Regions from separate parts of the Homo sapiens genome. Here region 1 is linked to region 2. The links come from fine-mapping of genetic effects on gene expression. A gene starts in region 2. The other region holds a variant in brackets. All regions are shown on one strand. Distances are between the middles of the regions. Region 1 has its middle 20 kb from the start of LINC02413. Region 2 holds the start of EEA1 (early endosome antigen 1).

Region 1 (5,493 bases), 41 kb before region 2:
GGGAAGCCAACACAGGAGGAAAGCTTGAGACCAGGATTTCGAGGCTGCAATGAGCTATGGCCATGCCACTGCACTCCAGCCTGGGCAACAGAGTGAGAGCCTGTCTTAAATAAATAAATAAATAAATAAAATAACATGGGCTGGGCGCAGTGGCTTACACCTGTAATTCCAACACTTTGGGAGGCCGATCTGGGTGGATCACCTGAGGTCAGGAGTTTGAGAGCAGCCTGGCCAACATGGCAAAACCCCGTCTCTACTAAAAATACAAAAATTAGCTGGGCATGGTGGCGCACGCCTGTACCTGCTACTGGTAGGGGCCGAGGCAGGAGAATCACTTGAATCTGGGAGGTGGAGGTTGCACTGAGCCGAGATTGCGCCACTGCACTCCAGCCTGGGTGACAGAGCAAGACTCCATCTCTCAAAAAAAAAAAAAAAAAAAAAAAAAGCAAGAAAAGAAAAGGTCTTTATAAGAAAAAGGTCCCATCCACTCTTCTGTTCAGGAAGGATTAAATCCCATATACCTTCTAGGAGTGACCCTTAATATCTCACACATTCTTTGAGATATATAAACTTTTTTTTTTTTTTTTTGAGACGGGATCTCAGCCCAGGCTGGAGTACAATGGTGCTATCTCACCTCATTGGAGCCTCGACCTCCCAGGCTCAAGCAATCTTTCCATCTCAGTCCCCCGAGTATCTGGGACTACAGGTGCACACCACCATGCATGGCCAGTTTTTGTATTTTTGTAGAGATGGGGTTTTGCCATGTTGCCCAGGCTGATCTTGAACTCCTGAACTCAAGGAATCCTTTTGTGTTGGCCTCCCTAAGTGCTGGGATTACAGGTGTGAACTCACTGTGCCCCACTGTAACAACTTTTTTTCTTCATTAAGCATCCAGATGTCTTGAGTATTTTGAAGTCTCAAACATCCTCCCCCTACCCCACTCATATGAAGAGCATATGACCCAAATGAAGCCAGAAATTTGAATCTAGAACATAAAGACACACAGATAGAAGACTGGGGTTGATGGACACAGCACTGTGGCTCATGCCTGTAATCCCAATACTTTGGAAGGTTGAGGCAGGAGGATTGCTGGGCAATTTAGCGAAATCCTGTCTCTACAAAAAATAAATTTTAAAAAACTAGCCAGGCGTGGTGGCATGCACCTATAGTCCTAGTTGCTCAAGAAGCTGAGGCAAGAGATTTTCTTGAGCCCAGGAGTTCAGGGATGCAGTGAGGCATGATAGGGTTACTGCACTCCTGTCTGGGCAACAGAGCAAGAGCCTGTCTCAAAAAAAAAAGAAGACTGGATTGAGTCATTGAGTCATTTTCTTGGCAGCATCCAAAATGTACTGATTCAGGAATTTCTGGTACTGAAGCCCCTGGAGATCCCCTAGTCTGGTTCTTTTTGAGCCTGATTTGTTCTTTTTGTTGCTTGAATACTGTGTTTTCTTGTATTATTCCAATCAGTTCTTTATTGCTTAAATTAGTCAGAATCTATGTCTGTTGTTTGCAAGCAAAGGACCATAACTGAGATAAGTGACAATGTGAAAGTGGTGCTGTGTTCTGGGCCAGATTCTTTTGAGCTGAGCCTGCTTGCAGACTGTGGGATGACCCAATGCTCCCACAATTTTCTTTAGTAATTCTGCTGTGCAACCTCTGATCTTACTGTGTACAATATGCTGAAATACCACTTGTCCCTCACTTGGTGCAAAAACATTACATTATGTATTATGTTCACATTTGTTTTTTTCTTATGAGTCTGTGTGGATAAAAGTAGTGGTATTGATGCCCATAAGAAACCATTTTGATCATAAAAGTAAATAACATCCTTCAGTTATAAAGTGACCATTCAAATGATCCAAAATATGCTTCTATTAATTTTGACATTATCATTGAATGAAAGCACATGGCTTTAAAAAAAAACAATTTGTGGCAAAGGATTTTCAGATCCTTAAAGGTAGATTGGAGAAATCTTGCCCTGGGTATTAGAGACTATTGTGATACATCTATTTTTCTTAGTTCACAGACTTCATCTTTCTCCCTGATACCTCAGTGATGATCAGGTCCAGGTTTAACAAATGTGTAGCTGAGCGTCATATGTTTAAAAAATTAACATGCAAGGACATGAGCAGAAAATTCACAAAAAGGGAAGTCCAAATAAATGGTCAATAAATACAGGAAAATATGTTTAGTCTCAGTAGTGAGCAAAGATGTTTAATGTATTAGTCAGGATGGTGTAGATAATGCTGCCATAACGCTCAACCCTAAGTCTCAGTGGCTTACAACAAAGAAGTCATATTTTTTGTTCATACTCATCATGCCTTACTTAGAGTCTTTATTCCATGTTGTTCTATCAAACTGAACAGAGTATGTTTATGTTAATCAATTATGGGACCCAGGCCATTTTCTGAAACATTGTTGGTAATCAATTGCAGAAGTGAAAGAGAACTCTGAAAGGTCTTGCTCAACCCAGAAGTGACACATACCATTGCTATTCACAACTCAATGACCAGACCAGGTCACATGGCCCCGCTTAACCTCAAGGGCCATAAAATTAAATCTCTTTTTTGTTTGTTTTTGTTT[C/T]TGAGACAGAGTCTCGCTCTGTTGCCCAGGCTGGAGTGCAGTGGTGTGATCTCGGCTCACTGCAAACTCAGCCACCCAGGTTCAAGCGATTCTCGTGCCTCAGCCTCCCTAGTAGCTGGGACTACAAGCATGTGCCACCACGCCCAGCTAATTTTTTTTGTATTTTTAGTAGAAAGGGGGTTTTGCCATGTTGCCCAGGCTGGTCTCAAACTCCTGAGCTCAGGCAATCTGCCTGCTTTAGCCTCCCAAAGTGCTAGGATTACAAGTATGAGCCACCATGCCCAGCTCATAAAATTAAATCTTATCATGTGCTTGGGGGGAGCATTAATGACTATAACATACAATCAAAACAATAAGTTATTATTTTTCAGCTACCAGATTGGCAACTTTAAAAAAATAGCTAAAACGTTTTTTAAACAAAAAAGTTAAAATATAGAGACGGGGGCCGGGCGCGGTGGTTCACGCCTGTAATCCCAGCACTTTGGGAGGCCGAGGCAGGTGGATCATGAGGTTATGAGTTCAAGACCAGCCTGGCCAAGATGGTGAAACCCCATCTCTACTAAAACTACAAAAATTAGCTGGGTGCAGTGGCAGGCGCCTGTAATCCCAGCTACTCAGGAGGCTGAGGCAGGAGAATCGCTTGAACCTGGGTGGCGGACGTTGCAGTGAGCGGAGATCACGCCATTGCACTCCAGCCTGGGCAACAAGAGCAAAAACTCTGTCTCAAAAAAAAAAAAAAAAAAAAAAAAAAAAATATATATATATATATATATATATGGAATGAGAGAGAGAGATGGGGTCTCCGTATGTTGCCTAGGCTGATCTGAAACTCCTGGACTCAAGGGATCCTCCCACCTCAGCCTCCCAAAGTGTTGGGATTATAGATGTAAGCCACTGCACCCAGCCCAGCTAAAATCTTGTCTCATCAAATGTGTATAAACATCTATAAATTGGGAATGAAAGTTTATACGTAATTTCTGGGGGCAATTTGACAGTATACACAAATGCATATGCACACACACACACACAGAGTGCATACTCTTTACCCTGCAATTCCATTTCTAGGAATTCAACCTAAGGAGATATTTATACAATTGTGGAAAGATAAGTTTACAAAAGCATTTATTGAAGCATTTTATATAACAGTTGAAAATGGATACAACCCAGCCGGGCGCGGTGGCTCATGCCTGTAATCTCAGCACTTTGGAAGGCCGAGGTGGGTGAATCACCTAAGGTCAGGAGTTCGAGACCAGCCTGGCCAACATGGTGAAACCTCATCTCTACTAAAAATAGAAAAATTAGCCAGGTGTGATGGCGCATGCCTGTAATCCCAGCTACTTGGGAGCCTGAGGCAGGAGAGTCGCTTGAACCCAGGAGGCAGAGGTTGCAGTGAGCTGAGATCACGCCACTGCACTCCAGCCTGGGCGACAGTGAGACTCTGTCTCAAAAAAAAAAAAAAAAAGAAGAAAATGGATACAACCCATAAATGCAACAGTAGAGTAATGACCAAACAGCTTGTGCCATATCTGTTAGATTAAATATTATGGAGCCATTAAAATTATGCTAGCAAAGGCTGAGCATGGTGGCTTACACCTGTAATCCCAGCAGTTTGGGAGGCCGAGGTGAGCAGATCACTCACTTGAGGTCAGGAGTTCAAGACCAGCCTGGCCAAGATGGTGAAACCTCATTTCTACTAAAAATACAAAAATTAGTGCATGGTGGCAGGCACCTGTAATCCCAGCTACTCGGAAGGCTGAAGCAGGAGAAACCCTTGAACAGAGGTCGAGTCGGAAGGCTGAAGCAGGAGAAACCCTTGAACAGAGGTCGAGGTGCCTCAAGAAACCCTTGAGGCAGTGAGCCGAGATCGTGCCACTGCACTCCAGCCACAGCAACAGAGTAAGATGCTGTCACCCCCACAACACACACAAAAAGAATTATGCTAACAAAGTGATATGTTTATTCTATAATTTTAAATGCCAAAGCAGTCTAGCAGTCTATGTGCATTCAGTGTAACTTCTTGCTGCACTCTGCAAGTGCAAGTGAAAAAAAGCACCAAGGAGTTCTCCCTAATTGATTCTTTCCTGATAATTGGAGGTTATCACAATTCATTCAACAGAATCTGTACATTCACAATTAAGAACCTCAACCAGGACTGCCCTTCCATGGGTAACACATTGTGCTATTTTATAGCTCAGCTCTCCACCATCCACAGAAGCTACCCTGGGAGCAAGATGGTGGGCGTTGTCTCTTCACAGAGTGCTTCCACTTTCCTAGAAGCTCATTTATGCTCAAGACTAGGAAATAAATAAAAGTACTGACTCTGTTCTTCACAATCCTTTTTATGGTTGAGTTTTCCTTCCCCAAAGAACCATCTCCTGTTTTCTATGGATTAGCAAAGTGCCCTGATCTTCTCATGCTGATTCATTTCCTCCCTTCCTTCCTGCCTCCCTCCCTCCTTTCCTCCCTCCCTTCCTTTTTCGTTTCCTTCAAAGAAACATTTATGAGCAGTTTAAGTCTCAGGCACTATGTCCAGTGCTAGGAATGCTCCCAATGAACAAGACACTATCTCTGTTCCCATGGAGCATATTATTTCTTGGAGAAAAGAAGGAAAACAGCAATTGCAATATATCCCTGTGGCAAACACTTCTGAAATGGCCCAAATGATCACTGCTTCCTGGTATTCATGTCCTTGTGTGATCCCCCTCTCCTGAGTGTTGACTCAACTTATGACTTGCTATTAACAAATAGAATATGGTAGAGTGATAGGATGTCATTTTGAGATTAGGTAATAAAAAGACTCACTTCCATCATGGGTCCCCACTCCCCAGCGCTTGCTCTGGGGGAAGCAAGCTGCCATGTGCTCCACCAATATGTTACACGACTGGTGTCATTTGTCAGAAAGGGAAGGTA
Region 2 (5,211 bases):
CTACAGACGTGCGCCACCACGTCCGGCTAATTTTTGTATTTTCAGTAGAGACAGGGTTTCACCATGTTCACCAGACTGGTCTTGAACTCCTGACCTCAGGTGATCCACGCCCCTCACCTCCCAAAGTGCTGGGATTACAGGTGTGAGCCACTGTGCCCAGCCTTCTATTCCTATGGATCCTGTGCAGCAGAGAGTAGGTGGTTAATTGAACTTAACCAGGGTTTGGCCTCTGCTAGACAAAAGCAATGGAGGAAGAGAAAGGTGAAGAAGTGGCCGGGTATGGTGTCTCATGTTTGTAATCCTAGCATTTTGGGAGGCAGAGGTGGGTGGATTACCCGAGCTCAGGAGTTTGAGACCAGCCTGGGCAACATGGTGAAACCCCATCTCCACTAAAATACAAAAAATTAGCTGGGCATGGTGGTGGGTGCCTGTAGTCCCAGCTACTTGGGAGGCTGAGGCAGGAGAATTGCTTGAACCCAGGAGGCACAGATTGCAGTGAGATTGCACACTGCACTCCAGCCTGGGCGACAGACTACATCTAAAAAAAAAAAAAAAAAAAAAAAAAAAAAGAAAGGTGAAGAAGTTAAGCATATTTGCAAAGGGAAGATTGTAAAGTTGGACCATGGGCTTTAGGTTGGGTTTTGATGGAAACGAGTAGGCTAGGGAAATGACTGATATTAAGAAAGTAAGAAGGGCCAATGGATTTGAGGTCTTGCTGGGGATCAAAGTAAATAGATGGTGGGGGAATATTAATGCACAAGAGCTGAACGGATGGGAATTAGTGGTCAGACAGGGTAAGCAGAACTGCTATGTATAGGAAGCTGCTAGATTAGTGAAGGGTATTCTTACATGGTTAGCTCTCACCCACTGCTTATTTTCTTTTGGAGTAATTAAGTTCTCCAGTGTATTATCCCAGTGATGGAGTTATCATGAACTGTGCAGGGGAGTACACAGATTTTCCAATAATCCATCTAGCTCAGCTGTAGATGAGAGCCTATTATATTATTCAAAGGATTCTACATGAGAATTCCAGTAAAGAAGGTCTTAGCATGTAACATTAATAAGCAGTTTTAAACTTTTTTTTTTTTTTTTAAAGACAGGGTCTCATTTTGTCACCCAGGATGGAGTACAGTGGTGAGATCATAGCTCACTGCATTCTCAACCTCCCTGGGCTCAGGTGATCCTCTCACCTCAGCCTCCTGAGTAGCTAGGAACACAGGCGCATGCCACCACACCCAGCTAATATTTTTTTAGACGAGTTGTTGCCATGTTGTCCAGGTTGGTCTGAAACTCCTGAGCTCAAGCAATCTGTCTGCTTCCGTCTCCCGAAGTGCTGGGATTACAGGCATAAAATCAGTGTGCCTGACCCTAAACTAATTTTTGAAAAACAAACAAAAAAGAGAAAAAAAGTCACTTTTATCACCCCATGTCGCTGAGAATGTTTCCCATATTGTCTGAAAATAAAGCACCTCATGTTTAGAAAGATGGAAAAGTATGTTCTTTGTAAGTGCATTATCACTAGTGATTACTCATATATTAGCTGTAGGCATGACCGTGCTGCTGCACCATCGAGAGACACACACACACATAATAAAAAACCAAATATATTTGGGATAGAAATATCATATTACATTATATAATGCATTATACTTTACAAAACATTTTCCTATTCATTAACTGATTTGCAAATAATATTTAATTTTGTGCTGCTTTTCAAAAGATCTGGAAGTGCTTTCCAAAAAGCACTCCATTCATTGCTTCATAGGCTTCATTCAGTGGTCTGTTGGTTTTTTCTTTTTTTTTTTTTTTCCCTCCCAGCAAGGTTAGTTCCATTATTCCCTCTCCTTCCCTATTCAAGCAATATTAAAGGCTTCTCTTTTTCTACCAGGGTGTTAAGTTGAGCCTCTTGGCTGTGAATATTGGCAGAATGGTAGGACGCAGAAGCTGTGATTTCTCGAGTTAAATAATGACATCGTGCCTGGAGGTCAGTTCAAAGACCACGTCGTTTTGGCACGATATTTATCTGTGACCTCATTTTCTTCTTAATCTATAAAACAGAGGCGTTAATGACAATTTACTTCATAAATCGATTATCAGAATAGGACTTAAAATTCCTTAGGAGGTCAAGCACGGGCTTTAGAAAGTGCAACATGTGAACATCAGCCTATTAAAAATTGTTTTGATCTAGAAAAGACAACCTCAAACTTCTCTTGCCAATTCAAATTCCAGCTTCTTCCTACCCTTCTTTTCTAAATCTTTGCTTTCTCTTTGGCTGAAATTAGAAGCAGGAAGGGAGCAGGGAAAGGAAACCTGGGACTGGAAAAGGGCAGGGAAGCCCAACAGACCGGTTAAGCACGTCTGAGATTCTCTAGTCGGCTTCAACCCAGGGGCTAAGAGGCAGAGTCAGCGTTTCCAGCAGAAACTAGCATATAGCTCAGGCTCAATACCACGTCGAGTCAGGAGCCATCGCCGGAAGGGTCACACCGACACATTTTACAAAACAGCCTAAGGCGTCCCCTCCTCCCGCCTGGGTCAGGGAGGGACACCCCCAGGGGTCCTCGCCCGCCTCCCACTAGCGGGCACGCGGTCGTCGCGCGGGCGCGGCCCTCTGACGGAGCCCAGGCGTGCACTCCGCAGCCTCGGCGTCCCCCAGCTAGCCGGAAGAAGCTGCGGCGACAGCGTCCTGCCGCCTGTCTGTCACGCAGCCGCCCACGTTGCCACCGCTTCCGATTGGTCGCTGGCCTGGACCGGCCCCCTTCAGCCCCGCCTCCCGCGAATGGACAGGCGAGGGGCGGGCCCGCCACCGCCCCGCCCCCCGGCGGCCGCGGGCGGGCCCGCCCATCTGTCAGTTACGGGGGCTGCCCGGCGGGCGGGCTGGAGGCGCTCGCAGGCTGCCTAGTCGTTCGCTCGCTCTCTCTCGCGTGCTCCCTCTCGCCGCCTGTGGGGAAGTCGGGGCCGCCCGAGCGGCCGTCGCCACCGCCTCGCCCCGACCTCCTTCCCGGTCCCCTCCCGGCCCAGTCCCTCCCGCCCGCGCACCCCGAGTAGTGAGTGGCCCCGCGCAGGGTCTGGAGAGTCACCGCGGCGGCGCCGGGTGGTGGTTAAACCATGTTAAGGAGGATTTTACAGAGGGTAAGAGAGTGAAACCGTCTTTCTGGCAGCACGTGAGCGGGACAGCCGGAGCTCGGGGCCGCGGCGCGGGCGCCCCTCCTCAGCGCGGGCTCCTTCCTTCCCTAGGCCCCACAGCCCGGCAGGCGCTTAGGCCTCGGTCGCCCGGCCCGGGGGCGGGGAGGGCGGGTGGGGCCGGCGCGGCGGGGCGGCAGGCAGAGCCCTGGTGGCCCCGCGCGTCCAGGCCTGGCGCCCGCTCCGGCGCGGGGCTCCGTGTGTGCGAGCGGGCTGCGAGCTGGAGGGTGTGGTGCCGGCGCGTTCCTCCCGGGAACCCTGAGTGGGAGTGAAAATGGAGAGTTGGTGCCCGTGGGACGGGCCAGCCGCCGCCTGCCGGGCTGGAGAACGCCCCATGGGAGATTCGGGCGGCTTGCTTCGCCTTTCCCCACCCGCCGCACTCCCCGTGCCCCCCAATTTGACACGATGCGCACCTGCCACACACGGCCCTGCTTTCTCCTTTGGACCACAGTGGAGGGTGGTGTGGTGAGCCCCGGCCTAGCCTGGGCCCAGGCGTGGGACTGACACTGGCACAGTCAGCCGAGAAGGAAGATGTTACTCACTGTTGGAAACTTTTTTTTTAATTAAAAATATGTTTTCTGTGCAAGCCCCACTACCTTATTTTAGCTATCCAAGAATAAATCCGCAGTAAGCTTGATCAAGTGGTATATACACTTAGTTTCTGCCTGTGCTGTCTCTGAAATCTGGAAAACCTTGAGGATAGAAAGATTAGAGCATTAGAAAACTGTAGGTGTATCATTTAAGAATCAGTTACTAGAATAACATAATTCACATCTCTTTTCCTGTAAGAGTTATTGTACCTGTCAACTTAAATTTGTTTTTTTTTTTTGGTATAGCTTTTTTCTTTTCTTTTTGAGGCTGATAGGGTGTAACAAAATGTAAATGATTGAAAAGTAGGTGCCGAGCCTATTAGTTCTTTACCGAGGGAGTAGGATAACTAGTTCAAAGGACAAAAGAAATTAGTGAATTTGTAGGATTCAGCCGAGGAATGTGCGGAAGAGAGTTGAGTCATCCAGTAGATAGGAAGGGAGTGCTCTTGCTTCTGCCTAGCTTTCTCCTGAAAGAATGAAGTCATGTGAAACTTGGTCAGTTATTAGAGGGAGAAATAGTTAACTTCTTTATCTGACAACCTGTGTTGACATTTAATTGTATTTTGCAGTGTTTTGTGAATTTTGAAATCCCGGTAAGCGATGATTTTGGCAGTAACAAGGGCATGTCCTTTACTTTCCCCATCACTTCCTTAGTTCAGCAGTAAAGACATCTGTGCATGATTTACTTTCAGGCTTTAGGAGATTTTTCTTTTATCAGACCTGGAGGAACTGATTACCTCATGTTTCAGATTGTGTTTCTGTCATAGTTCTGCAAGTGAAAATTAGTTTGCCTGTGGTTTGCTTTGAAGTTTACAAATAAAAGTGTTTACTGGTTTAAGGGTAGCTCAGCTGTAGTTATAGATTGGTTTTCAGAAATATGGGATGCTTTCTAGTAATCTTGGTTTAAAGTTAAACATCGAGATTATATGAAGATCATTTTTAATGTTGGTGCATACCTATCAACTGTTAAAGAAGCTTCTGTTGAAACTACAAAAGTGAAATTGATTGTGGTTATTGCAGAGATGTGATATTGAATCATCACTTCTGAATAAGTCAGTTGACAACTGAGTTTCTTAACGTCGGCGCTATTGGCATTTGTGACTGGATAATTCTGCGTTGTGGGAGGCTGCCCTGTGCCTTGTAAGATGTTAGCAGCATCCCTGGCATCTACCCCCACTAGATGCCAGTAGCATTCCCCTATATCCCTTCCCCCTTGTGACAACCAAAAATAGCTCCAGATTTTACCAAATGTCCCCTAGGGGCAAAATTGCCTCTGGTTGAGAATCACTGTGTTAAATGCATTAACTCTTTAGTAGGAAAGTTTGAAGTGTTTCTCACAGTTAAGTACTTAATTTTCTTTTATTCAGTGTATTTATATTGAGTTTCAGTAAATGCCAGGCTTCATGCTAAGGGGTAGGAAACAGTTGATTAAGCTGTGGGT

What was found. PIP is the estimated chance that this variant, and not a neighbour inherited with it, causes the effect.
Region 1: its variant is fine-mapped to the expression of EEA1 in fibroblasts (GTEx, PIP 0.95).

Annotation. Positions count from the first base shown.
Region 1 is chr12:92,968,153-92,973,645 of GRCh38, reverse strand. No RefSeq gene overlaps it. Among named protein-coding and RNA genes, the nearest start is that of LINC02413, 20 kb to the left of the region's middle. RefSeq lists enhancers at 2,285-2,334, 2,815-2,884. The variant C/T (reference allele first, on the strand shown) is at 2,584.
Region 2 is chr12:92,926,961-92,932,171 of GRCh38, reverse strand. It overlaps EEA1 (early endosome antigen 1), which reads left to right and starts at 2,877. Exons shown (of 29, transcript NM_003566.4): 1 at 2,877-3,129. The coding sequence starts at 3,106. RefSeq lists a silencer at 2,408-3,487 and an enhancer at 4,588-4,717.